Homo sapiens: one gene and its partners. The protein of the gene in region 1 purifies or fractionates together with the protein of each later gene. This does not show direct contact. Each region holds a gene or a part of one and is shown in the gene's direction. Other genes may lie near its edges. The genes, in order: GLMN, CUL4A, CUL7 and CUL2.

Evidence for each region.
Region 2: the proteins of GLMN (region 1) and CUL4A purify together in Homo sapiens (affinity purification with mass spectrometry; 6 studies listed by BioGRID and IntAct, with this or other methods). This does not show direct contact.
Region 3: the proteins of GLMN (region 1) and CUL7 purify together in Homo sapiens (affinity purification with mass spectrometry; 5 studies listed by BioGRID and IntAct, with this or other methods). This does not show direct contact.
Region 4: the proteins of GLMN (region 1) and CUL2 purify together in Homo sapiens (co-immunoprecipitation; 5 studies listed by BioGRID and IntAct, with this or other methods). This does not show direct contact.

What each region holds. Positions count from the first base shown.
Region 1 is NC_000001.11:92,295,972-92,303,711, reverse strand, and holds the start of GLMN (glomulin), read left to right. Parts: upstream 1-4,724; 5' UTR 4,725-4,787; exon of another isoform or gene 4,788-5,157; coding exon of another isoform or gene 5,158-5,226; intron 5,227-5,682; coding exon of another isoform or gene 5,683-5,712; coding exon 5,713-5,751; intron 5,752-6,182; coding exon 6,183-6,308; intron 6,309-7,740. Other genes in the region: putative RNA polymerase II subunit B1 CTD phosphatase RPAP2, read right to left, coding at 2,122-2,236, 3,473-3,518, 4,566-4,638.
Region 2 is NC_000013.11:113,240,596-113,247,619, forward strand, and holds part of CUL4A (cullin-4A), read left to right. Parts: intron 1-2,372; coding exon 2,373-2,565; intron 2,566-3,814; coding exon 3,815-3,919; intron 3,920-4,353; coding exon 4,354-4,464; intron 4,465-4,556; coding exon 4,557-4,642; intron 4,643-5,360; coding exon 5,361-5,468; intron 5,469-7,024. UniProt on the Homo sapiens protein: Core component of multiple cullin-RING-based E3 ubiquitin-protein ligase complexes which mediate the ubiquitination of target proteins. As a scaffold protein may contribute to catalysis through positioning of the substrate and the ubiquitin-conjugating enzyme.
Region 3 is NC_000006.12:43,037,112-43,043,870, reverse strand, and holds the end of CUL7 (cullin-7), read left to right. Parts: exon of another isoform or gene 1-240; coding exon 241-423; exon of another isoform or gene 424-690; coding exon 691-797; exon of another isoform or gene 798-813; intron 814-886; coding exon 887-1,069; intron 1,070-2,746; exon of another isoform or gene 2,747-2,795; coding exon 2,796-2,956; intron 2,957-3,124; coding exon 3,125-3,341; intron 3,342-3,444; coding exon 3,445-3,715; intron 3,716-4,883; coding exon 4,884-5,029; intron 5,030-5,178; coding exon 5,179-5,305; intron 5,306-5,386; coding exon of another isoform or gene 5,387-5,398; coding exon 5,399-5,604; intron 5,605-5,859; coding exon 5,860-6,183; 3' UTR 6,184-6,254; downstream 6,255-6,759. UniProt on the Homo sapiens protein: Core component of the 3M and Cul7-RING(FBXW8) complexes, which mediate the ubiquitination and subsequent proteasomal degradation of target proteins. Core component of the 3M complex, a complex required to regulate microtubule dynamics and genome integrity.
Region 4 is NC_000010.11:35,080,318-35,087,341, reverse strand, and holds part of CUL2 (cullin-2), read left to right. Parts: intron 1-7,024.

The sequences.
Region 1 (7,740 bases):
GAAATAATTCTGAGGCATGAGGAAGAAGTGATGCTATAGCTATACACAAGCTAAATGACAACAGTATCTTTTATTTTTGAAAAAGTATTATTTAAAAAATTAACTAAATCACAAAATAATAAAATATAATTTTACCTATTTTTTAAAGCATAATCTTTAAAAACAAAGTATTTCAAAAGTGTCATTGTTACTGCAGAACACAGTTTGTGCAAAATTTTCCTACTTCTGAAAAATCTGTACAGAGTGGTGAGGTGATGGTTATAAGCTAACATCAAATATTTTCCTTTGACATCTTCATGATCAAATAATTTTGATTCTTGTTCATAACTTTGAGATCTTTTAACAAGTTTTTCTGTTTTCACAGAGACAGAAATACTTTTTATTGAGAGTGATGTAAGTTTTATGTTTCAAATGAAGCATATTTGCCTTTGTCTTTTCTGGTGTCATCAAATATGCAGATTCTGATGCAGTTACCTGTGTCAATAAAAATATGAATTGTCATGTTCATATTCCTGTTTAGAAAAAGATCTATCAACTACACTAAGAAGTGTTTTTGTAATAGAAGCTTTGAGTTTTAATTTGCCCTCTTAAGGATTACAAAAATATAAAGAGAAATTTCCATTCAAAATTTTAATGTAGTAAAGCTGTTTCAAAATTTTTTTATTCTCAAATTTTTATTTAGACAGGGTCTCGCTGTGTTGTCCAGACTGGTCTCAAACTCCTGGGCTCAAGCGATCCTACCGCCTTGGCTTCCCAAAGTGCTGGGATTACAGGTATGAGCCATCGTGCCTGGCCAAAAAAAAATTAATGCGGGCCGAGAGCAGTGGCTCATGCCTGTAATCCCAGCACTTTGGGAGGCCGACGCGGGCGGATCACGAGGTTAGGAAATCGAGACCATCCTGGCTAACACAGTGAAATCCCATCTCTACTAAAAATACAAAAAAATTAGCCGGGCGTAATGGTGGGCGCCCAGTCCCAGCTACTCGGGAGGCTGAGGCAGGAGAATGGCGTGAACACGGGAGGCGGAGCTTGCAGTGAGCAGAGATCCCGCCACTGCACTCCAGCCTGGGCGACAGAGTGAGGCTCCGTCTCAAAAAAAAAAAAAAAAAAAAAAAAAAAAATTTAATGCGGAATTTAATTCTCCCGTTTTATGTTGAGTCATAAATGAGCTGTATTTCAGGTTTTTGAAATAAGAAAATTGATGAAATTACATTGACAAAAATAATATTCTTCTGTTACTTAAAATAACACAACACAGAATATAGAAAACTGGAATTGCAATCATTAGAACAAATTGAAGAAAATCAAGTGATATTAGCAGACTGGTTAAAAGAACTATGACTAAGGGTAAAATATATTTGCTTTTTCTTTTTTTTTTTTTCTCCCCCATCCTCATTTTTCTTTTTTCCCATTTATTATTTATATACTTATTTTGAGACAGAGTCTCACTCTTGTTGCCCAGACTGGAGTGCAGTGGTGTGATCTCAGCTCACTGCAACGTCTGCCTCCTGAGTTCAAGTGATTCTCATGCCTCAGCCTCCTGAGCAGCTGGGATTACAGGCATGAGCCACACCTGGCTAATTTTGTATTTTTAGTAGAAACGAGGTTTCACCATGTTGGCCAGGCTGGTCTCGAACTCCTGACCTCAAGTGATCCGCCTGCCTTAGCCTCCCAAAGTGCTGGGATTACATGAGCCATTGTGCCTGGCCTCTTTTGCTTTTTAATTGACAATAATAATTGTATATATTTGTGGGGTAGTATGTGATGTTTTAACACATGTATACATTGAGCAAATCAGGCTAATTAACATATCTATCACCTCACATATTTATCATTTCTTTGTGGTGAGAACATTTGAAATCCACTCTTATTAATTTTGAAATATACATTACGTGTCATCACCTTGTTACGTACTTATTTTTCATTAGTGCATTTTAAAGTCATTATACAAGGAATGCATGATAGTTGTTTATTTTTAAATGCATGAATTATATGGATTGTTATCTGCATCTAATGACTCAGAACAAATTCAAAGATTCTAATAATGCAAAGAAGTTTCATGCTGCACAGATTTAAAGATGTTATACTACAAAACTAATAATTTGTCAACTTAACACATACACACTCCATTAGGAACTCTTCTGTAATATTCTCCTCTAAAAGCTGTTCAACAATATGTAGAGCTTTTCTCTCAAATTCAATCTTCTTTCTCACAGCTGCTTCTAGTTCAGCTTTCCTAAAATTTGAAAGAGAAACTTAATCTACTTAAAAGCTTCATGTCCAACATTCCATGTTTTAAAATACAATACTAACCTAACTCACTATTTTGCCACTTAAATTTAAATATATTTAAAAAATTTTTTGAATAAAAATATTTATTTCTTTTTAATTGTAGAGACAAGGTCTCACTATGTTGCTCAAACTGGTCTCGAGCTCCTGGCCTCAAGCAACACTCCCACCTCAGCCTCCCAAAGTGCTGGGATCACCGGCATAAGCCACCACATCCGGCCAAATTTCTGTTTTCTAATGCTGTTACTTTTGATCCAATACTTTTCAAAAAGGAAACAAGCTACTTTTTGCACTGCACATACATAAGTCTTTATATACTCTTTGTATGGTTAATGTCTACTTAGCACGCAGGTCTCAGCATAAGGCTTTCGCTGAAAACTCACAGCCAACCTCCCTGCCACCCACCTCCAACTAAATTAGACTTCGTTATTCCTTCTCGTAACATCACAGTCTTTTCCTTCATAGTGCTTATCACAATTTGTAATTATGTATTTGTTTATGTTAATTAACTAATTAATTTATTATTATTTATTCCTCTGTTCCACTAGGCAAGAACTGTGTCTATTCTGTTCACCATATCTTCAGAGCCTAACACAGGTCCGACATATCTTATACTCAATAAATAATTTTTGAAAGAATGAGTAAATTAAGACCAAAGCCAATATAAGATTAGTGAGTCTTCACAAAATAAAAATCATAGCTACATATGCTTTTAATCCCCTTCACATTCTACTCCTCTTCTAGAAACTCTGTGTGATATGTGGTAATATCTTGCCTTTTTAGAACCAGAACTAGTACAAGACAGCTTTTTAATGAAAATCTGGACTTGATGTAACAAAGAACAGAAAAGGTTTCTTGGAGTGACAGCGAAACTTGGAGAGTGAGTCTCTGGCATATAAAGCAATAAAAGGAGAGTGTACCTGAAGCGGTGAAAAACAAACACCTTCTACAGACACTCATTCCTTCACTAGCAGTCTGAGTGCTTAGTTTGGTTTTCTTAAAGCCTGGAGTAGAGGAATGTAACAGTCTATGTGAGAATTTATAGGCCTTCCCAGATCTTTCCCTTCCCTCTCATGATAATTTTCTCTAAAAAAAAAAAGGTAACCATTATTGTTTTAAAATTGGTACAAGTAATACAAGATAAGTAGATATGCCAATGTAGTTGTCCATGTAGCTGTCATACCTTTTAGAAGCATCTTCTTGTTTCAAAGTACTTGTCTGTTTAGTACCTACAATAAAAATACAGTCATGTGCTACATAATGACATTTCCGTAAACGACGGACAGCATACAGACAGCGGTCTCATAAGATTAAAATACTGTATTTTTACTGTACCTTTTCTATGTTTAGATATACAGTTGCCTACAGTACTTAGTACAGTAACATGCTGTGCAGGTTTGTAGCCTGGGAGCAATAGGCTGTACCATATAGCCTAGTGTGTAAGTAGGCTGTACCATCTAGGTTTGTGTAAGTGCACTCGATGATGGTCACACAAGGATGAAATCGACTAACAACTTATTTCTCAAAATGCATCCCCGCAGTTAAGCTACACATGGTGGCAGTAGGTCAGGTCTACACAAACACATTAGGTACAAGATAGATTCCTACACAAATAACAAACTGTAGACCACCTTTTCTTCTTTTCCACATATTTTATGTCCAATCGTGTGTAAATCAAAATGAAATAGGAAGGGAGAGCAATTTGTTTTTGCAAATTGATTACTGTCTAATTTTTCTTGGTTAAAATGTATCTCTTTGGGGATTGAATTTTCTTCTGTATCATAGTTGCTTAATTAACCACTCCTGAAAATCTGAGATCTGGGTACTTTTAGGGGAAACCTCTCTCCGTCTGCCAAACGTCCTCTCTGGGGGAAGAGGGGAGTCCGGCACCTTAAAGAACTGGGCACCCAAGCAATCTGGAAAGGAGGACCGGTCCTAGGTTCAAGGCCAGCTGCCAACGCTGCCCTAGTCACTTGCCCCGAAACCCGGGGACCCCAGGCCTGGGTTCCCGGGGCCTCCACTGTCCTTTGTCTCAGAGGCTGGGGCCACAGTCCGCGTGAGGGAAATCTTGGAACACTGGCGTAAAGGGGTGAGGGGCGGCCAGGAAATCTTTCCCAGGAGGTGCGGACGGCGGTGGGAAGCTTTCGGCCTACTCTACCTGGGAGAACCCCTCCCCTGAAGCAGCCTTTCAGGAGCGCCCGCGCGCTGCGGTCTATAACTCGAGATCGGGGCCCAGCTTTCAGGGTCCAAAAGTGGGAAGAGATCCTTGCTCCTACCTGCGGCTTTTCGAGAGCAGCGGGGAGCCCCGGCCTTGCGGCCGGCAGAAGACGGCCCAGCGAAGTCCGCCATGGGGGAGAGTAGTCTGCCGGACGGGGACACGCTCCGGCGTCTCGCCCCGAGGCCCCGCCTCCCTACGCGTAGCGCGGGGCGGGGCCAGAAGAGCGGGCTAAGACGCCGGAGGAGGTGGCGGCGGCTGGGAGAGGCGAGGGTTCTGGCCGGTAAGTGGAGTTGTGGAGAGGTTCAGGGTGGCCAGGGCTCGCGGTTGGCCGTGAGCCGCGGCGGACTTGGTGCTGCGGGCCGACTAGGCCACGCGAGGTGGTGGAGCCTGCCCACCTAGGCGAGCAGGAATCGGAAGACATGGCTTCCTCTGATGCAGCCCGCACGCGCGCTGGGGTGTTCACTCGCCTTCCAGCGCGCTGCCCTGAGGACCGGGCTGACTCGCGCCCCTACTGAGGGCTTGGGGCCGAGCCTTGCCGCCAGGAGAAGCGATGGTCTCCTCCTGAAGGCCGCCGTTGTCTTGTCTCCGTGTGATACAGTGATTTCACTAGCTGGATTGATCACTTTGGGGACTGCAACTCCTAGAGAGAAATGGAATGGAGGGCATCTGAATCTTCACCCCCTATAGATAAGCTTGTGTTGCACCCCAATTTTTGTGAGGTGAGACATTAAAAATGAAAAATCCCCTGATGATTAGAATTTTGATTTCAGGTCCACCTTTTGGAAATTTTTTTTCAGAAAAGAAGTGCTTTGCTTTTTAAAAGCCCTTTAGTTCGTATATGCCTCGCCTCTTGGGAGTGCTCGAGAGGTTTTTTTTGTTTTTTTTTCCTTCAAAGTAGCTTTCAAAACTATGCTCCTAGAAAACTTAAAACATGCAATAAGGGCTTCTAAAAAAACACTTTATTTTCTTAGGCAAACATACTAAGATTCAGTAATAACATTTCAACTTTAAAACTTTACATTTTCTCCTAGCATGCTATTGGACCAAAAAACACAACAACAAAAACTTTCCATTTTCTTTATTGTATTTACTAATAATTTATCACACTGAAACATAACTTTTGAATACTTAAGTGTAATATCACGGATAGTTAACAGTGTGTTTTGTATTTGTAGATTTTAGCATCGAAACTAGGAGAAATAAGAATGGCTGTAGAGGAACTTCAGTCTATAATAAAGAGATGTGTAAGTATTAATTTTTGTAAAATTAAATACCTTTCAAAATATGGGAAGGGCACAGATTGTTTTTAATTATATTTGTGGTCACTCAAATTGTTTATCTTCTTTAATCCTTGCTTTTTTTGACCTGTAAAGAGCATGAGTGGGGGAGGCAGATTGGATTATTTCTCCAGGTGACATACTTATCTAAATAACCTTTTACATTTTAATCCTGATCCTTTTCATAGATTTCACTGGTACAGTAGATTTCAAGGTCACTTATTAAAGTATTTATTAGGGTAATCCTAATTTTGATACGTGTGTTATTTACGTTACATTTATCTAGAATTTAAACAGATTTCCTTTTTTCATAGATAAATCAAGAAGTTATTGTATTTAATTTTTATTTGCATATACTTTTTTTTGTTTGTTTTTTGGGTTTTTTTTTTTTTTGCCAGCAAATCCTAGAAGAGCAAGACTTTAAAGAAGAGGATTTTGGCCTATTTCAGTTAGCTGGGCAAAGATGCATAGAAGAAGGGCACACAGACCAGCTATTAGAAATTATTCAAAATGAAAAGAATAAGGTGCGTACAATCTTGGTGTTTACTTTTCAGTCTTGGGAAGAGAATAATCACATGATGCTATTCATCCAGTCATTTATCCATCAAACATTTAAGAATCTACTTAAATTTTCACAGTAGGGAACTGAAAACAAAAAAAGAATTAGAAATATTTAGGCCAGGCGCAGTGGCTCACGTTCGTAATCACAGCGTTATGGGAGGCCAAGGCAGGCAGATCACTTGAGCCCAGGAGTTTGAGACCAGCCTGGGCAACAGAGTAAGACCCTGTCTCAGAAAAAAAAAAAAAAAAAAGAAAAGAAACAGTCATATACTTGAAGGTTTTTACCATCTGGTCAAACATAAACATGTAAACAACTAACAATAATGAGGCAAAATAAATAATTGCTATAGTTGAAGTAAAGAGTTTTTAGAAGAAACAGAATTACTTCTGGTTTAGGGAGTCCAAAAATGGTGTTTGAGTCATTAATTTACAATGAGAAATATACATATCAAGCAGGCTAAATATTCATTTTGGGTGATCAGCCCATTCTCCTCCAGCCAAATGTGTATGGAAAACCAAATTTTAATTAAAACAGTATTTTATGTGCATAGAATCAGAACAGGAGGAAAACGATATGTCATTATACTAGCCAGTATCATCCAGTTACAATGGTTTGAGAAATCATCCTCCACAATGGAAAAGGATCTTATTTGTGGATCAGGAATAACTTTTTCCTGGGACACTGTGTTGGCAACATCCTGCCAAATTTTGTGTCTTTGGATACTCCTTATAAGGAAGACGGCTATGGTTTGGCTCTGTGTCCCCACCCAGATCTCACCTTGAATTGTAATAATCCCTGTGTGTCAAGGATGGGACCAGGTGGAGGTGATTGAATCATGGGGGTGGTTTCCCCATGCTTCTCATGATAGGGAGTGAGTTCTCACCAGGTCTGATGGTTTTATAACCATCTGGCATTTCCCCTGTTGGCACTCAGTCCCTCTCCTGCTGCCCTGTGAAGAGGTGCCTTCCGCCATGATTGTTAAGTTTCCTGAGGCCTCCCTAGCCATGTGGAACTGCATGTCAATTAAACCTCTTTTCTTTCTAAATTACCCAGGCTTGGGTATTTTTTCATAGCAGCATGAGAACAGACTAATACAAAGACCATCTTCCTTCTAGGTACACACTCTTTCTTCATTTGCAGTGCTACTTATTTATTAGAAGTTTTCTTTCTTGATATCACAGTGTAATCATGTTGATCTGTGTTTCTCTCCAGGGCATCTTGATTGGATTTGGGGGATTCCTAAAACTTTTTAATCATATATTATTATAACATCTCTTAGTCAGTAGTTCAAATGGCTTATACCCTTCTTATTTTTTATTAAAATAGGACATTTTATTTAGTTTTTGATACATGTTTATGATAACTTTGTAACCTCCAATATAATAAATCTTATG
Region 2 (7,024 bases), on another chromosome or scaffold:
TAAGAGGAAAAAAAGAAAAGCCAATCACAGATACTTAACGTGTTATTGCATAACATTTTGGAAATGACAAAATTTAGAAATGGAGGATAGATGAAAAGTTACCAGGGTGTAGGGATGGGGCAGGGTGTGTGGTTATAAAAGGCCCCAGGAGGTAGCCTTCTGCGGGAACAGTCGGGGTTTCGGCCGAGGTCTAGATGTGCACACCCAGATGAGTTACGAGTAAACTGGGCCATGTGAAAAAGACGGGTGCGCTGCCATGTCAGTACCCCAGCTGAGACACTGTTGTGTAGTTTCGCAAACCGTTGCCATTGGAGGAAACTGTGGAAATAAAGACACTGGGATTGCTTTGCTATTTTTACTATTATGCAAATCTGTCATTATCTGAATAAAGATTTCCGTTAAATAAAAAAGATAAAGCTTACATGCTGCTTTATGGAATAATCAGACCTGAAGTCATGTATCAGTCCAGCTGTGGAAAGCCAGCACTCACAGCACCCCTCCCCACAAGGTCTCGTACAATGATAGAATTGGAACTTATAACTGAGTCACACTAAATTGGCCATAAAGCTACTGAAGATTTAGGTTTTTTGCCAGTGAGACAGTCTTCAGGGGATGGGAATGTGTGCTAAAAACTAGGAAAAGTTCACCTTTGCAGTTTCCAGTCTGGGTAATAAAAATCAGTGAGTGACCATCACCCCTGAGTGTCAGCAATAAGTAGTTATACTGTAACAAAATAGTAGTTTATATTCAACTCCACATGCCGTTATCAAAATAAAGCTGGGCCTTGTAGTGTATGTGCATTATTTCAAAATGCAGTTAGCACCAAAGGGTGTAGAGTAAGAGGTAAGTCCCTCCCACACCTGCTAGCCACACACCGCCCCTCTCTGGGAGAGTCTGTGCCCTTTCTGTTGGCATCTTTTTTTTTTTTTTTTTTTTTGAGGTGGAGTCTCACTCTGTCATCCAGGCTGGAGTGTAGTGGCGTGATCTCAGCTCACTGCAACCTCTGCCTCCTGGGTTCAAGCAGTTCCCTGCCTCAGCCTCCTGAGTAGCTGGGATTACAGGCTCCCGCCACCACACCTGGCCAATTTTTGTATTTTTAGTAGAGATGGGGTTTCACCATATTGTCCAAGCTGGTCTTGGAACTCCAGACCTTGTGATCCACCCGCCTTAGCCTCCCAAAGTGCTGGGATTACAAGCGTGAGCCACTGCGCCCAGCCTTCTCTTGGCATCTTTCCACCAGCCAGCTACCTCGCGTGTGTGTGTGATGTGTGAGTGCACATGTGCATTCTATTGAGACGAATTTTTTAAATCCAATCATTGTATTCAGTTCCTCTTCGGCATATATAGTTTATATCATCAAATGTTAACTGTTTATTAGTGCCCTACACAGACTTTTAGGAATGTTTAATATAACAGTTTTAAATTAAAAATACAAACTAGGCTAGGCACAGTGGCTCACGCTTGTAATCCCACCACTTTGGGAGGCCAAGGCAGGCAGATCATGAAGTCAAGAGATCAAGACCATCCTGGCCAACATGGTGAAACCCCGTCTCTAGCTGGGCGTGGTGGTGTGCACCTGTAGTCCCAGCTACATGGGAGGCGGAGGTTGCAGTGAGCCGAGATCACGCCACTGCACTCCAGCCTGGTGACAAAGCGAGAGTCCATCTCAAAACAAAAAAAAAAAAGTACAAACTAAAAAAGTGAGCTTTTCATGGTTAGAAGTGATGGAGAAGGAAAACTAGCCAAGAAGTCCCAAGAGGTATATTGAATTAATAGGAATTAACTTGTCTTGGAGGAACTTACACATAAACATTCTTTAAAAAGCAACGGACATTTTCCAGTCGTTTGTAAGTTCTCTCAGAAACAGAATCGTAAGACCAATGCATTAATTGTGTATTTAATTGTATATTCACACCAAGCACAGGGGCTCATGCCTGTAAACCCAGCACTTTGGGAAATCACAGTGGGAGGATTGCTTGAGGCCAGGAGTTCGAGACCAGCCTGGGCAACATGACCCCGTCTCTACAAAACTTTAAAAAGATGGGCCAGATGTGGTGGCCTGAGCCTGTAGCACCAGCTACTCAGGAGGCTGAGGTGGGAGGATTGCTTGAGCTTGGGAGGTTGAGGCTGCAGTGAACCGTGATTGCACCACCGCACTCCAGCCTCGGCCGCAGAGTGAGGGCCTGCCTCAAAAAAAAGTGTATTCACTTAATTTTTGAAATGTGAATTCAATTTGTGAAACTTTTAAAGTTATTGAGTATTTACTACTAAGAGTAATTTATGTTAAACTATCCTGATTATATGATAGCAGGAGAAGATACTGTTTGCTATTGTAAACATGTTGCTGAGTTGGTATTGATTTGCTTTTGTAGACTTTTGGAACAGCGATCGTAATCAATCCTGAGAAAGACAAAGACATGGTCCAAGACCTGTTGGACTTCAAGGACAAGGTGGACCACGTGATCGAGGTCTGCTTCCAGAAGAATGAGCGGTTCGTCAACCTGATGAAGGAGTCCTTTGAGACGTTCATCAACAAGAGACCCAACAAGCCTGCAGAACTGATCGGTAGAAAAATATTTGTTTTTTTTGTTTGTTTGTTTTTGAGACAGTCTCACCCATTTCTAGACAATTTTTTAATATGGGAAAATAAGGCAAAATCAACCAAAATGTTCAAGCTGCTCAAGGGGTGTGTGGAAAGCGTTTTTATCAAGTCTTATTAGGACACAAATTTAAAAACCGACACACCTGCATGCATGGGTGGAGGAGGGCATTTCCATAAGGGAAGATGAGGTAAGAATTTAGAAAAGAAATGATGCTTGACTTCGCCAAAGAAGGGAGGGGTGATCACCATCTTTGTATCCTCTAATCCATATTAAAATAGGATAAAACCAGATGAGATCTCAAATGATAATACTATTTTTAAGCTGTACAATTTTTTCACAATAATATCAAAATATATTTCAGAATTCATAGGCTTTCTCTAGTCAGTAAAATTTTTTTTTTAATTCGAAGGAGAAAGGGGGCAAAGAGAGCTGAAATACGACGATACTAGATTGACTGTTGATTACTGCTGAAGATGTAAGATGGAACATGGAGCTCATTGTGCAATTGTCTGCTTTTCTGTGTGTTCAGAATATTCCATTACAAAATGTTTAAAAGAAAAAAACTAACAAAAACAGCAACAGAAGGAATTCAGGAGGCAGTTTACTTTGGCTTTTGTTCCTCTGTATCATTTGTGGTTTCTCTAAAGCAAAGGGATGTTGAGCTCTTGGGAGTTTGGGCTTCTGGAAGTCTTGGGTTCTCCCATCACATGGGGACTTTGGTCCTCCCTCCCAAGCCACCTGACGATGGCTTGTGCAGCCTCAGAAACAGGAAGCCCGAGTAGAAATGCTTTCACCCTGCGTTGCCACCTTGGATGCTCTGAGAAAGTCTTTCTCTTTGAGAATGTCTCCTCTGCATTCATGACACCAGATCCTAGAAATAGGCACTCCAGCGTCCGGGGCAGTCACGTCCTGAAACCTGAGCATGTATTTGCTGAAGTCATTTTATTTTGAAATTCAGAGATTGCATTTAAAGATAAGAAAGATATTTAAACCTGCTTTAAACATTCAGTCCTGGCTTCATTAAAATTTTGGCAAGTATTTACTCTCACTTGACTTGAGAAGTACTTACCTTAGAAAATCAGATATTTGTTTTTTTGTCATATAGTCATTTTGGGAAGGTTCCAGAATGTTCCTGTACAATGTTGCTAATAGAAATTGAAGATGCTCTCTTTTTCTAGTTTAGAGTATTTACTATATGTTTATGCTCACAGCAAAGCATGTGGATTCAAAGTTAAGAGCAGGCAACAAAGAAGCCACAGACGAGGAGCTGGAGCGGACGTTGGACAAGATCATGATCCTGTTCAGGTTTATCCACGGTGAGACTCGGGCACTCAGAAAATGCTGCATAATCAAGAGGTGTAAACAGGCCCTGCTTTCCCAGAGGAGGTTTAGCATGAGAATGTCAGTATCAGTAGAGCCAGTTTGCATTAGAATGAACACTTTTCATCCTTGCTAACATGGTGAAACCCCGTCTCTACTAAAAATACAAAACATTAGCCAGGCGTGGTGGCAGGCGCCTGTAGTCCCACCTACTTGGGAGGCTGAGGCAGAGAATGGCGTGAACGCGGGAGGCGGAGCTTGCAGTGAGCCGAGATCGCGCCACTGCACTCCAGCCTGGGCAACAGAGCAAGACTCTGTCTCAAAAAAAAAAAAAAACACTTTTAAGGGTTTTCAGCAGTTGAAGTTTGAAGTTTAACATTTGCTTATCAACTCTCTGATGTCTTGATTATTCTCGTCTGGTTATAAATAGGTAAAGATGTCTTTGAAGCATTTTATAAAAAAGATTTGGCAAAAAGACTCCTTGTTGGGAAAAGTGCCTCAGTCGATGCTGAAAAGTCTATGTTGTCAAAGCTCAAGCATGGTAAGTATGTGGGGCCTGGGCTCCTCCCCTGTAACTGAGGGTTGCTGCCCCGTGTGTTACCCCGATCTCACTCCCTCCTTTGCTGTGTCCAGAGTGCGGTGCAGCCTTCACCAGCAAGCTGGAAGGCATGTTCAAGGACATGGAGCTTTCGAAGGACATCATGGTTCATTTCAAGCAGGTGAGTTGTGTTTCTTAGGTAAAGCGGCTTTTTAAAAAGTATCTGTTAGTGTGGTGGCTCATGCCTGTAATCCCAGCACTTTGGGAGGCAGAGGCAAGAGACGTTCTTGAGGCCAGAAGTTCAAAACTACCCTGATCAACATAGCAAGACCCAGTCTCTACAAAAGAAAAATTTTTTTAATGAACAGGTAGTCCTAGCTACTGGGGTAGGGCTGAAGTGAGAAGATCACTTGAGCCCAGGAGTTTGAGGCTGCAGTGAGCCGTGACTGCACCACTGCGCTCCAGCCTGGGCAACAGAGTGAGACCTTGTCGTGGATGGGTGGATAGATAGATAATACATAGACAGAGATAGCAGTACCTTGTCATAGATAGATAAATAGATAAGGTAGGTAGATTCAATAGATTAGATAGAATGAATCTCACTCTATGTAAGAAGAAAATTACACTATTAACGTTTCACAAGTAAATTTTAAAAGAAGAAAAAGAAGATCTAAACGTGTGGCAAGAATTTTATTTCAGTGAGTCTGGTGGTGACACCTGAAGAAGGGAAAAAGGCAGTCCTAGTGAGGCATTGGGTTTCATGGAATACATTCTGGGGACTGAGATAAATTCTAACACAGATGAAACTTTATATTGAAAATTACACGGTTTATTTTGTTTTAGGTTAATTATGTTTTATTACTTTCTCAAAATGATTGTCTTGGATTTCTCTGTTTTAGCATATGCAGAATCAGAGTGACTCAGGCCCTATAGACCTCACAGTGAACATACTCACAATGGGCTACTGGCCAACATACACGCCCATGGAAGTGCACTTAACCCCAGAAGTAAGTGTGCAGAAAGCATGCTGTCCGCTCCCGCTGTCATGCCCTTACCAGGCACAGATATGTTGCCTTCAAGAATTGTTGAATGGGGAGTTTTTAAAAATAGCCCACTCAGTCCAAAATCAAAGTGCTCTTATGGTCTTTGGAAATGTGCTTGAGAAAGTGACCACTTTTGTCACCTTCTGTGGCTCCTCCCAGTGCAGCCTGTGTCCACCTGCTGACCTGCAGGGGGCCCATGAGCACAGGCACTTGTTTTGGAAGTTATGGCTTATTAAGCTGCGGTTCTTGTCTGGTTGTTCTTTCTTTCCATTGTAGACAGTGCTGAAGTCTTGGGAATGGCATTATTTAGGGCCTTCTTTGTCAGCCACTACTTTAGCTACACTAAACCCTTCAGTGGAGGGTTTGCACGCCGGAGGTAGAATTCTGTGCTCAATGAAGTTAACATCAGCAGGAGATACAATACATGCACCATTCATTTAATACCAGGCGAAGGGAAAGGGCTGAGACCAGCCTGCAATCATGGAAGACTTCCTGGAAAAGGCGTCCCTTAAGCCTGATATCAAGTAAAGATGAATGATGATTTCGTCAGCTGAGAAGGGAAGAAAGACACACAGCTACAGTGGTAGGACAGTGTGATTCCTTTTCTTATCCATCATGAGGGTCATGGCCAATGCTCCTTTAACAAAAGACAAATTAGGAGGAGAAAACCTTAACAAATTTATTTAATCAAAGTTTTATTTAACACATCAGGCTTCAGAAATGAAGACCAAAGACCCAGGGAAGACTGTCCATTGTTATGCTTAGGTTTGATAAAGAATGGGCAGCCATGTAGAAATAGGTGTGTTAGTCTGTTTTGCATTGCTGTAAAGGAATACCTGGGGCTGGGTAATTTGTAAAGAAAAGAGTTTTCATTGGCTCATGGTTCTGCAGGCTATACAAGCATGGCACCTGTGTCTGTGCAACTTCTGATGAGGTCCCAGGAAGCTTTTACTCAAGGTTGAAGGCAAAGGGGGAGTAGGCGAGAGAGAGGGCGCAACAGGTGGTGGGGGAAGGTCCCAGACTCCTTAACAATCAGATCTCGTGGTAACTCATTACCACAGGGAGGGCGCCAGGCCATTCATGAGGGATCCACCCCCATGACCCAAACACCTCCCACCAGGCCCCACCTCCAGCACTGCAGATCACAGTTCACCGTGAGATTTAGAGGGGACAGACCCCCAAACTCTTATCAATGTGACTGGACAGAAGGGTACCATCTAACAGTAGTAGAGTAGCGGGGAAACCAGTAAGGCCTGTCTGTTCAGATTCTTCTTGGCCTCACTGGGCAATGTTCTTTCCTCCCAGGTGTAGGGCAGGACACCTCTGGAACAAGAGTCTTATGACTTAACTATCAGCAAGGTAGTTCAGAGAACTTCTTAATATCCAGATCCTACACAAAAGGGCATGGGAAGCATCGAGTAGTATCTCCAGGCTTTATGGCTGGCTTTGGGCAAGAGGGGTTTGAGTTTTCTCTGGCCTGCCTTGGGGAAGAAGAGTTCTCATTCCAGGAGAACTTTGGG
Region 3 (6,759 bases), on another chromosome or scaffold:
TTATTTTTAAAGATGGGGTCCTGCTATGTTGACCAGGCCAGTCTTGAACTCCTGCCTCAAGCGATCCTCTCATCTCAGCCTCCCAAAGTGCTGGGATTACAGGCGTAAACCACCCTACCTGGCCCCCCTTCCTTGTATCATTCCGTCCAGTTGCTCTATCTCCACACTCCTGTTCAGCCCAACCACTCCCACTTCCCTGCAGACATGGCTGTGCCTTGGTTTGTTTATCTCACCCTCTAGATGAGGATGGCATTAGCCCCCTGGGTTGGCTGCTGGACCAGTACCTGGAGTGTCAGGAAGCTGTCTTCAACCCCCAGAGCCGCGGCCCAGCTTTCTTCTCGCGGGTGCGCCGTCTCACTCACCTGCTGGTGCATGTCGAGCCCTGTGAGGCACCCCCTCCTGTGGTGGCCACTCCTCGGCCCAGTGAGTAGTGGAGATTCAGGTGGGGAGCTCTAGTCAGGAGCGTTTTCCTGGGCCCCATGTGTACACCACAGGCTTCTGTCCATCCCCATCCTTCCCCTCCCTATGGGCTCAGCCTGTTCATCTTCCAGGTTTGTGTCACCTCCATCCATGAACATCATTTTGGGTGGCAGCATGTCAGGAAAGGCCTCAGGGAACCCCCTTGGATGGGGACTTGGGAGTGGAGGGGCTGCACCCTCCTTGCCTCTGCCACTTTCTTGGTCTCTACAGAAGGCAGAAACAGAAGCCACGACTGGAGCTCCTTGGCTACCCGGGGCCTTCCAAGCAGCATCATGAGAAACCTGACGCGCTGTTGGCGGGCCGTGGTGGAGAAGCAGGTGGGCAGGAGCAGGCCTGCGGGAGAGAGGGGACACCATAATGGTGGCATGTTGGGTTGTGTCTTCATGCTCCTGCCCCTTCCTTCCAGGTGAACAATTTTCTGACCTCATCCTGGCGGGATGATGACTTTGTGCCACGCTACTGTGAGCACTTTAATATTCTGCAGAACTCAAGCTCTGAACTGTTTGGGCCTCGGGCAGCCTTCTTGCTGGCGCTGCAAAATGGCTGTGCGGGAGCCTTGCTGAAGCTCCCTTTTCTCAAAGCTGCCCACGTAAGCCTCTACCCTTGCCTCATCCTTGGGTCTCTTCCGACAAACTCTCCCTTCCTCACCTCCTCCAAATGACCCACCCTTCCATTCCCATTCTATGATGAACATATGTTAGTATATAGCCATGTTATAAGAAGTTTAAAAAATTGAAAAAAATAAATAGTGGCCAGGTGTGGTGGCTCATGCCTGTAATCCCAGCACTTTGGGAGGCCGAGGCAGGCAGATCATCTGAGGGCAGGAGTTTGAGGCCAGCCTGGCCAACATGGCCAAACCCCATCTCTACTAAAAATACAAAAATTAGCCAGGCATGGTGGCACATGCCTGTATTCCCAGCTACTTGGGAGGCTGAGGCAGGAGAATCGTTTGAACCCAGGAAGTGGAGGTTGCAGTTGCAGTCAGCCGAGATTGCACCACTGCACTCCAGCCTGCGTGACAGAGCTAGACTCATCTCAAAAAAAAGAAAAAAACAAAAAAACCCCCCACAATTGATGAGCTAAAATGCAAGAAGCACCCTGGAAAGCAGGGTACAGAGCAGCAGGAACATGAGGCTCCTTGTGTAGCCTCCAGTCCTAGTTTATCAGTGACACTGCATCAGGACCATCTTTGTGTATGTAACTTACCTCCTTGTGTCCGTCTTTCTTTCTCTCTCTCTTTCTCCCTTCCTGCCTTCCTTCCTTCCTTCCTTCCCTCCTTCCCTCCTTCCCTCCCTCCTTCTCTCCCTCCCTCCCTCCTTCTCTTTCTCTCTTTCTCTTTCTTTCCTTCTCTCTTTCTTTCTTCTTCCTTTTTTTTTTTTTTTTTTTTGAGACGGAGTCTCGCTCTGTTGCCCAGGCTGGAGTGCAGTGGCTCGATCTCAGCTCACCACAACCTCCGCCTCCCAGGTTCAAGCGATTCTCCTGCCTCAACCTCCCAAGTAGCTGGGATTACAGGTGCATGCTACCACGCCCAGCCAATTTTTGTATTTTTAGTAGAGACGGAGTTTCACCACATTGGTCAGGCTGGTCTCGAACTCCTGACCTCGTGATCCGCCCGCCTCACCCTCCCAAAGTGTTGGGATTACAGGCATGAGCCACCTCTCCCTTCCCTTCCCTTTCCCTTCCCTTCCCCTTCCCTTCCCTTCCCCTTCCTTTCCCTTCCCTTCCCTCCCCTCTTTTCCTCTCCTTTCTTTTTCTTTCTCTCCCTTTCTTTCTCTTTCTTTACTTCTTTCTTAACAGGGTCTTACTCCCTCCCACACTGGGATGCAGTGGTGCAGTCACAGCTCACTGCGGCCTCAACCTCTTGGGCTCAGGTGGTCCTCTCAGCCTTCTGGGTAGCTGGGACCATAGGCGTGTGCCACCATGCCCAGCTAATTTTTTCGTATTTTTAGTAGAGATGGGGTTTTGCCATGTTGCCCAGGCTGGTCTCCAACTCCTGGGTTCAAGCCATCTGCCTGTCTCAGCCTCCCAAAGTGCTGGAATTACAGGCGTGAACTGCGCCTGGTCTTATTTTCTCATTTTGAATGATTATTATTAGTTTGATTTTTTAGACACAATGTGAAAAGACACTTTCCATAATTGTTAATATTGCTAATTTGTACAATGGTTAATGATCTTATAAAATAGTTGTATGAAAGCACCAACCACCTTAGAAAGCTGCCAGCATTCATATCTACTTTCCAGACCCTCATCCCTCCTCCCCACTCACCTGCTCTGCTCGCTCATTCATGGCTTTCCTGTGCTCTGCCATTGCTCAGGTGAGTGAGCAGTTCGCCCGGCACATTGACCAGCAGATCCAGGGCAGCCGGATCGGTGGAGCCCAGGAAATGGAGAGGCTGGCACAGCTGCAGCAATGCCTGCAAGCTGTCCTGATTTTCTCCGGCTTGGAGATAGCCACCACTTTTGAGCATTATTACCAGTGAGTGTGGACCTAAGGAGCGGGAGCTGGCGGGAGGCAGGATGATGGTGGCAGAGCCAGCTCATGGGCCTGGAAGTCTGGGATAGAGGCAGGCTGGAGCCTTGGAGTGGGAGGCTGGGCCACACTGGTGCCCACACTGAGGCTTGGCCCGGGCTGCATGCACTGCAGGCACTACATGGCGGACCGTCTCCTGGGCGTGGTCTCGAGCTGGCTGGAGGGGGCCGTGCTGGAGCAGATCGGTCCCTGCTTCCCCAACCGCCTCCCCCAGCAGATGTTGCAGAGCCTGAGCACCTCTAAGGAGCTGCAGCGCCAGTTCCACGTCTACCAGCTCCAGCAGCTGGATCAGGAACTCCTGAAGCTGGAGGATACAGAGAAGAAAATACAGGTGAGTGCCTTGGAAGGGATAAGCAAATAAGAGGGTAGGGGGAAGAGGGGCGTGGAGCAGACTGGAGGAGGCCATGGCATCTGGGAACCCTGTGCTCCTTCAGGTGGGCCTTGGGGCCAGTGGCAAGGAGCACAAGAGCGAGAAGGAAGAGGAAGCTGGGGCAGCAGCAGTGGTGGATGTGGCGGAGGGAGAGGAGGAAGAGGAGGAGAATGAGGACCTCTACTATGAAGGGGCAATGCCAGAAGTGTCTGTGCTTGTCCTGTCCCGACACTCCTGGCCTGTTGCCTCAATCTGCCACACACTGAACCCCAGAACCTGCCTGCCCTCCTACCTGAGGGGCACTTTGAACAGATACTCCAACTTCTACAACAAGAGTGAGCAGCCAGGCAGAGGGACTGGGGACTGGGGAGAGGGTGGGCTGCTAGGAAAGGACCTGGGGTTGGGGGCAGACCCTGATGTTGGGAGGCTTGATGTAAAAAGAGATAGTCTTTGGCTGGGCACAGTGCTCACGCCTGTAATCCCAGCACTTTGGGAGGCCGAGGCAGGCAGATCACTTGAGGTCAGGAGTTCAAGACCAGCCTTGGCCAACATGGTGAAACCTCGTCTCTGCTAAAAATACAGAAATTAGCCGGGTGTGGTGGTGTGTGCCTGTAGTCCCAGCTACTCGGGAGGCTGAGGCAGGAGAATCACTTCAACCCACAGGCAGATGTTGCAGTGAGCCGAGATCGTGCCACTGCACTCTAGCCTGGGCGACAGCGAGACTCCATCTCAAAAAAAAAAAAAAAAAAAAAAAAGAGTTGGTCTTTTAATTTACATTTTTAATTTTTGTTTTTATAGATTCAGGGAGAGATAGTCTTTAGGGATAAGAATTCCCTAGGCCATGGGAAAAACAGTGGTTTTGAGAACAAAGGGCAGGAGCTTGGTGGCTGGGGGTGGCAGGTGCTGTCAGATACCTGATCCCCAGACCATTGCTTTTTCTGTTCTAAAATAAGACCTGGGAATCTCTTTGTGGGTGACGGGGAGGATGGAGGCAGGAGGCACCTGAGGCCACCAGATATGAGTAGGTGTCTGGCTCTTTTCTGGTCAGTCACCTGTCATCCTAAACTCCCCATCGGGGGCTGATCCCTGAGCTGGCAGCAACACAGGAGGGGGAAGAGGCTCAGACCTGTGGTCAGGGCGCCTCCTAATAGGGGAGACATTGTTTCCTGTCATAATATTCCAGCTTGATAAGAGCCCCAGTCCTTCCTCCCTTCATGGTTTTGTCTCCCTAAAAACACATGGGGCAATCCTCGAAGGCACTGATGAGAACCTGCTTGGCACCAGGCTAGGCATAGGATAGCTCCCAGATCCTGAGGCTTGCCATAGAGGCAGGCCCAGAGAAGGCTGAGATCTGGAAGCTCAGACCAGAAGCCCCAGTGTCCATAAATGCTGGGGTCACACGCCTTGCAGAGATAAACAGAGCGTGACCAGCGTGCACCCTCCCTCCAACACCAACTCCCTCCTTTCACCTGCTCTTTGTCTCCCTCCCCCTTCCTGGTCCAGGTCAGAGCCACCCTGCCCTTGAGCGAGGCTCACAGAGGCGACTGCAGTGGACGTGGCTGGGCTGGGCTGAGCTGCAGTTTGGGAACCAGACCCTGCATGTGTCCACCGTGCAGATGTGGCTACTGCTGTATCTCAACGACCTGAAGGTGGCCCAGCCCCGCTGCACCTCTCTCCTGTCTCCCACTTTGTCCCTTGCCTCTCTTCCCAAAACCTTGACTCCCTCTGCTTCTTCCCTCCATCCTCTTCTCTCCACTCCTTGGGGAGGCCCTGAATGTCTCCCATCTGTTCTCTGAAGGCGGTCTCTGTGGAGAGTCTGCTGGCGTTCTCAGGGCTCTCCGCAGACATGCTCAATCAGGCGATTGGGCCCCTCACCTCTTCAAGAGGCCCCCTGGACCTTCACGAGCAAAAGGATATACCAGGAGGTATGCACTTAGGGCCAGAGGGGCCTCTGCTCTGAGGCAGGGCCAGGCTCCTCGTGGGCTCTCCACTGAGTGAGTGATCAGCATTTATTTCAGGGGTCCTCAAGATTCGAGATGGCAGCAAGGAACCCAGGTCGAGATGGGACATTGTGCGGCTCATCCCACCTCAGACGTACCTGCAAGCTGAGGGTGAAGACGGCCAGAACTTGGAGAAGAGACGGAATCTTCTGAACTGCCTCATCGTCCGAATCCTCAAGGCCCATGGAGATGAGGGGCTGCACATTGACCAGCTTGTCTGTCTGGTAGGCAGGGGTGGGCACAATGGGTGACAGATCTTTGCTGGGGTTGGGGGAGCAGTCTACAGGACAAGGTGGGTGCACGTGTGGTGAGGCACCTGGTTCACTGTGTAGCCTGTAGGAGTGTGAGGAGTGAGGTCGGGATGTACCTCGTGTCCTTGGGGCATCCTGTCCTAGCAGCTGGTGGTTGGAGTGGAAGCTCAAGCAAGGAGGGGTCAGCTGCCTCTAAACTACCGCTTCTCCCTTCCTCCCCCACACCAGGTGCTGGAGGCTTGGCAGAAGGGCCCGTGTCCTCCCAGGGGTTTGGTCAGCAGCCTTGGTAAGGGGTCTGCATGCAGCAGCACTGACGTCCTCTCCTGCATCCTACACCTCCTGGGCAAGGGCACGCTGAGACGCCATGACGACCGGCCCCAGGTGCTGTCCTATGCAGTCCCTGTGACTGTCATGGAGCCTCACACTGAGTCCCTGAACCCAGGCTCCTCAGGCCCCAACCCACCCCTCACCTTCCATACCCTACAGATTCGCTCCCGGGGTGTGCCCTATGCCTCCTGCACTGCCACCCAGAGCTTCTCTACCTTCCGGTAGCCCTAGACTTGGGGTCAGGGGAAGGTAGAGCTGGAGCTTTTACAGAAATAAAACCCAAGAGTTTGATTATATGACGTGTGTGTTTGGCGACTGCTAGAGATTTGAGTGGGGAGGTGGGAGGGTTTTCCTTGCTGGTGGAGAAGGAGCCCTTGGCACTGAGGCTGTCGCATGATATGCCAAGGGTCTTGTTAGGGTGAGGATGGTAGACTGGGAGAAAGGCAGAGGGAGTCAGGTGTGACTTAGCACCCCCTCTAGGCAGAGATTGAGAGGACCAGGCAGGATGATGGCACTCAGCCCCTTCTCAGAGGGTGTGTGGTCAGAAGTGCTTTCATCTGGCAGGCTGGAGATCCAAGCCCAACTTGGCCACTCACCAGATGGTTTGTAACTTGGGCAGATTATCGAGCAGGGTTTAATTCTCCTCGTTTGTGGAACTGGCCCAGTCACTGTGGGACTGCGACAAGTAACAGGTATGGAAGCATTTGACGTGGTGAATGAAGGCATTGCCAGTGAGTCTCTATTTTGGCCACCATTGCCAACAGTGAATGTGGTTCCTTGGTGCCTTCCCTAAGTAAGACT
Region 4 (7,024 bases), on another chromosome or scaffold:
GCATTTATTTATTGGTATACTAATGTTTTGAACAAAAACTGTATTCACATGGCTCAAAATTTAAGATGTTAGTCTGGGCAACATGGTGAGACCCCATGTCTACAAAAAATAATTTAAAAAACATTAGCCAGGCGTGGTGGCGCACGCCTGTAGTACCCGCTGTTGGGAAGCTGAGGCCAGATGACCAGGTTGGAAGTGGCAGTGATCTGTGATTGCACCACTGCACTCCAGCCTGAGTGACAGAGTGAGACCCTGTCTCTAAAACAAACAGAAAACCAAAATATAAAATTGTCAGTAGGGAATAGAATGAAAATCTCCCTCCACTTCTTGTACCCTTGTCATCCAGCTTTCCTTGGAGCCAAACATTGTTAGCTGTTTCTTAGATCTCCTTGGAAAAAAATATTTGTGGACATATAAGCAAATATTGTTCCCACTTTGCAGAAACAGTAGTACACTTTACTTTGACATTTGTATTTTTTAGAGTGTTAAATAGTAGTTAAGTTATGAAATAGGATGAGAACACAGAGAATGTAGAAAGAGGATAAAACTGTGGAGTACTGCAGCATTTTCTGATTTGGTCCCTGCCCTTGTTAAGTTCATTTATTTATTTATTTATTTATTTTGAGATGGTGTTCGCTCTGTCACCCAGGCTGGAGTTTGTATTTTTAGTAGAGATGGGGCTTCACCATGTTGGCCAGGCTGGTCTCGTTAAGTTTTTGACCTACAGGTGTGGAGTTGTTTAAAAAGCTGTTTCCGGCCACGTACGGTGGCTCAGGCCTGTAATCCCAGCACTTTGGGAGGTTGAGGTGGGTGGATCACTTGAGCCCAGCAGCTTGAGACCAGCTTGGGCAACATGGCGAACCCTGTCTGTACAAAAAATACAGAAATTAGCCAGGTGTGGTGGTGCAGGCCTGTAATCCCAGCTGCTAGGGAGGTTGAGGTGAGAGGATTACTTGAACCCAGGAGGTGGAGGCTGCAGTGAGCCACTATACTCCAGCCTGGGTGACAGAACTAAGAGAGTTTCATTGTGTTGCCCAGGCTGGTCTCGAACTCCTGGGCTCAAACAATTCTCCCACCTCAGCCTCCCTAAGTGTTAGGATTACAGGCGTGATCCACTGTGCCCGGCCTTGTTTCTTGTTTCTTTTTTTTTTTTGAGACAGAGTCTCTCAGTCTGGAGTGCAGGGGCTCAATCTCAGCCCACTGCAGCCTCCACTTCCCGAGCTGGGACTACAGGCGCCCTCCACCACTCTCAGCTAATTTTTGTATTTTTAGTAGAGACAAGGTTTCACTATGTTGGCCAGGCTGCTTGTTTCTTTATTTTTATCTTTTTCAACTTTCATTTTAGATTCAGGAGGTACACACGTAGGTTTGTTACCCGGGTATATTGTGTGATGCTGAGGTTTAGGATACAATGATCCCGTCACTCAGGTGCTGAACATAGTACCCAACCGTTTTTCAACCCTTATGCCCTTCCTCCCTCGCTGTAAAAAGCTGTTTCTTTTTGTGAGACTTTACAAAAGTTTGCACTGTTTGTTTTGTGTTCTACCTTATCTGCCTGTTCTTTGTGTATTCTGGAAAAATGTCTGGCTGTGATTGAAAGCAATGTTTCATATGCACTATCAGTTTTTTTTTTTTTTTTTTTTTTGAGACAGAGTCTGGCTGTGTCTCTGGTTCCCGGGTTCACACCATTCTGCCTCAGCCTCCCGAGTAGCTGGGACTACAGGCGCCTGCCACCATGCCCGGCTAATTTTTTGTATTTTTCATAGAGATGGAGTTTCACCGTGTTAGCCAGGATGGTCTTGATCTCCTGACCTTGTGGTCCGCCTTCCTCAGTGTCCCAAAGTGCTGGGATTACAGGTGTGAGCCACACCGCGCCTGGCCCTAACAGTTATTTTTATTTTTATTTTTTTTTGGGACGGTGTCTCGCTTTGTCGCCCAGGCTGGAGCGCAGTGGCGCGATCTCAGCTCACTGCAAGCTCTGCCTCCTGGGTCTACGCCATTCTCCTGCCTCAGTCTCCAAAGTAGCTGGGACTACAGGCAGCCGCCACCATGCCTGGCTAATTTTTTGTATTTTTTTAGTAGAGACGGGGTTTCACTGTGTTAGCCAGGATGGTCTCAATCTCCTGACCTTGTGATCTGCCTGCCTCAGCCTCCCAGAGTGCTGGGATTACAGGTGTGAGCCACCACACCCAGCCAGTTATTTTTTATTATTATTATTTTTTGAGATGGAGTCTCACACTGTCACCCAGGCTGGAGTGCAGTGGCACAATCTCGGCTGACTGCATTCTCCGCCTCTGGCATTTAAGAGACTCTCCTGCCTCAGCTTCCCAAGTAACTGGGATTACAGGCGCCCACCACCACCCCCAGCTAATTTTTTTGTATTTTTAGTAGAGACGGGGTTTCACCATGTTGGCCAGGCTGGTCTTGAACTCCTGACCTCATGATTCACTTGCCTCGGCTTACCAAAGTGCTGGGATTACAAGTGTGAGCCACCAGGCCTGTCCAACTATCAGTTGTTTTTAAGTAAATTGATGACAGGATCAGCCCTAGAATCTTAATATTATGAGGACTTATGACTGGCTCATGTTAAATCTTGGAAAAACAAGCAGCGATTTGGAATGTTATGAGATTTATAACAAGTTATTGATCTATGAGATGTATGACTGAACCCTCTCTCAGTAATCAGTTAATCACAATATCTATTCAGAGTGATTTGGCTCTGTGCCTGGGTTTGAATCTTACTGGTAACGTATCTGTCATATTGCAGTTAGCATAATCTTTGGGTTACCTTTAAGAATGTATAGATTTCTATATCAGTACTTTATATTTGGCTTTTCATTGGGAAAGGCTTATTGGAGACAATCCCTTTGATTCTTAAAAGTTTTGAGACAGTAGTAGTGTTAGGTTAAGATTGTGGTGTTGGATCTGTAGAAACTTCCGGGGTGCCTTGAACCCTGTTGATTTTTCTTTTGGAGGAGGAGAGGTGGAATATTTCCTTTTGCTTTAAGCTTTGTTATTCTGGAGAATTAAAAATTCAGACTGATACTGTGTCTTGTTTGCTTGTTTGAGACAGAGTTTCACTCGTCACCCAAGCTGTAGTGCAGTGGCGCGATCTCAGCTCACTGCAACCTCTGCCTCCTGGGTTCAAGTGATTCTCCTGCCTCAGCCTCCCAAGTAGCTGGGACTATAGGTGTCTGCCACCACACCTGACTAATTTTTATATTTTTAGTAGAGATAGGGTTTTGCCATGTTGACCAGGCTGGTCTTGAACTCCTGACCTCAAGAGATCCGCCCTCTTTGGCCTTCCAAGGTGCTGGGATTACAGGTGTGAGCCACTGTGCCTGGCCTCTTTTATATAGTTTAACATTATAAATAATGTTAGTTACATCTATTAATTCAGTGACTTAGTCTTTCTCTATTGTAGGTTGCTTTTCAAAGAATGAAACATGGATTTGCCATATGTAAATTTTTAAAAATATCTCAGCCTTGTTTTAATTCAGTTGAAGGAGAGAAAGTACAGGCTATGCTCCAGGCTGGTTTTGAACTCCTTGGCTCAAGCAGTCCTCTTGCCTTGGTTTCCCAAAGTGTTGGGATTACAGCAGGCATGAGTCACTGTGACCCGCCTATGGTTTATAATCTAATCCTATCATTCATTATTTTGTTGCTCTGATTTGTTCCAGTTTTGACCTTTAGTTTAACTTGTGTCCTTTCGATATGCCCCCACCCTCTTTGTGGGGGGAAAGCACCTTCTATTTTCTGACATCATAGGTGTTCTAGGTTCAACTTGTATTTTTCCTGCTTCAGCCCTGGAATCAATCACTTTTCCAAGGAGGAGCTCTGGTTCCTTTTTTTGGAGAATGATATTTAGAAACCAAGATCTAAGTTCTATGTGTGCCCATTGCCACTGTGGTGTCATTCCTCCTAGGCCCTTCTCAGTGAACAGAGCTAGAAATATATGTATATTCAACCATGCATACACAAACATCTATGTTTATATCTTTTTATCTGCATGTATATGTGTGTTTGTGTATTCAAAACCATGAGTTTGTAAATGATACCTTTGATTACAACTCATTACCACAGGATTAATGCTTGCCTTTCCCCTTTATTTATAACTGCTATTTTCTGACGGTGGGAAATAGAAGATAGCTTTCTTTTTTTCTTTTTCTTTCTTTTTTTTTTTTTTTGAGATGGAGTCTTGCTCTCATGCAGGCTGGAGTGCAGTGGCTCGATCTTGGCTCACTGCAACCTTTGCCTCCTGGGTTCAAGCGATTCTCCTGCCTCAGCCTCCTGAGTAGCTGGGATTACAGGCACCTGCCACCACACCGACTAATTTTTGTATTTTTAGTAGAGATGGGGTTTCACCATGTTGGCCAGGCTGGTCTCAAACTCCTGACCTCAAGTGATCTGCCCGCCTTGGCCTCCCAAACTGCTGGGATTACAAGCATGAGCCACCATGCTCAGCCAAAGATACCTTTGTAATTATGTAAGTGTATAGTTACCAAAATAATGAATAATGTGACATCAAGAGAAAGATCCCCAAGTAGTCCTGAGCCTTCAGAAAAATTTTATCTCAAGATATTTCTCTTTTATTTGATAAAAGTCTGTCTGAACCAAAAATAGTATTTTGTCATCATAGTACCAAGTATTATTTTGATTAGAATGCATCCATTTAAAAATTTTTAGAGAGCATTTTGCAGTGAGATTCAGATACTTCTCTGACATCAGAACTTTGTACCTGTGATCTAGTTTTTAAGCACTTAAAACATACATGACATAAAATTTACCATTTTAACCGTCATTAAGGGTATAGTTTAGTGGTGTTAACTGCATTTACAGTGTCATTGTGACCCTCACCACCATTTCCAAAACCACCATTTCCAAAACTTTTTCGTTACTAGACAGAAACTGTACAACCATTAGGCAGTAGCTCCCCATTTCCCCTTCCCCCAGCATCTGATAACATCTCATCCTTCTTTCTGTCTTTATGAATTTGCCCACATACATACTTTTGTTTAAATAGGACCATAAGATATTTTTCACCTTGTGTCTAGTGTATTTGACTTAGCGTAATATCTTCAAGGTTAATCCTTGTCGTAGCATATATCGGAACTTTTTATTTTGAGAGACAAGGTCTGGCTCTGTTGCCCAGGCTGGAGTGCAGTGGTGTGATCATAACTCACTGCAGGCAAATTTTTTTTTTTTTTCAGTCAAGATGATGTCTTGCTGTGTTCCCAGGCTGGTCTTGAACTCCTGAGCTCAAGTGATCCTCCCACGTTGGCCTCCCAAAATGCTGGGATTACAAACTTGATCCAACTCACTGGCTCTCTTTGGGATTGTAAACAGGAGGTGTCAAGAAAGTTGCTAGAGGGTTAATTGATATGCATCTGCCATAACTGTATCCCCTTTTTAATTATTCTTCCATGCCTGTGTCTTCTATAGCAGTGTCAGGACATAGGCAGGATTTAATGTATTATATAGCAGTCAGCAAATACAGTAGATTGTAGTGGTGCGGTCACATCTTGGGCTCAAGTGATCCTCCCATCCCAGCCTCCCTAGTAGCTGGGACTACAGGTGCATGCCACCACACCTGGCTGATCTGTTTGTATTTTGTACAGGCGGGGTTCACCATGTTGCCCAGGTTGGCTGCGAACTCCTGGGCTCAAGCAGTCTGCCCATCTTGGCCTCGCAAAGTGCTGGGATTGTAGGTATGGGCCACTGCACACAGCCAAAAAATTTGTTCTCAATGTTTTGATAATTTGTGTAAAGGCTGGTTGGTTCTAGCTTTGTCTAGTATTCATACACGATGGGCTTGCCTAGTCATGAAGGACTCAGAAATTCAAATTCTCTAATTTACCTGAGATCGGGGATACATATATGAGAATAGTTTTTTTTAAAAATGTCAGTTTCTTAAATTCGTTGACTAGATTATTGAACAAAAAATGAGAAAGCAAGTGAAAATGGCGTTAAACTTCAAGCTGATAAGAGCGATGTGAAAACTTAAGAAACAAAGTATAGGCTGTGCAGTCTTATGGGAGTCTAAAGTTCATTGCAGAGAGGGGTCTTTTATTCTGGTGCAGTGGGTTTATTTTTGGAAGCAGGTAGCTGCTTTTTTGTGACAAGATCTTGGTCTTTTGGCCCAGGCTGGAGTGTGGTGGTGCCATTGTAGCTTAATGTAACCTTGAAGTCTCCTTTGCTCAAGCCAAGCTCCCACCTTAGCCTCCTGAGTAGCTGGGACTCCCTGCGGGCGCATGTTACCAGAGGGCCCAGCTACTATAATTTTATTTTTTTTTAAAGACCAGGTCTGTCTATGTTGCTAAGGCTGTTTTCAAACTCCCAGGCTCAAGTGATCCTCCCACCTCAGCCTCCCAAAGTACTAGGATTACAGGTGTGAGCCACCACACCTGGGTGCAAATGGCTTCTGTAACTTATTGTATTATGAATACATTCCCTACTCCCCACCGTGTCACCCTTTTTGAGACTTCAAGATGTTTTCCTGCAGTATACATTTTGGCACACACCATATGTCTGTTCACTCTTTTTTCCCCAACTCATTTGTTTTTGTAAAAAACCTACTAGAAATTCTAGGCTGGGTGCGGTGGCACACGCCTGTAATCCTAGTAATTTGGGAGGCCAAGGCTGGTGGAAGCTTGAGCTCAGGAGTTCAAGACCAGCCTGGGCAACATAGTGAAACCCCATCTCTACAAATACAAAAAAGTAGCTCAGTGCAGTGGTGTGTGCCTGTAGTCCCAGCTGCTCAGGAGGCTGAGGCGGGAGGATCACTTGAGCCCAGGAGGTCAAGGCTGCAGTGAACCAGGATCACACCACTGCACTGGGTGACAGAACAAGACCCTGTCTCAAAAATAAATAAATAAATAAATAAATAAATAAATAAATAAATAAATAAAAATAGGAATTCTAAAGCCAGAAAGTCATGATGGAAATGTTGTTTATGGAGTACTTAGAGCTCTGTGGGTCAAACCTTAGTGCAACAAAAAACATTGCACCCTTAACCTCCAAATAA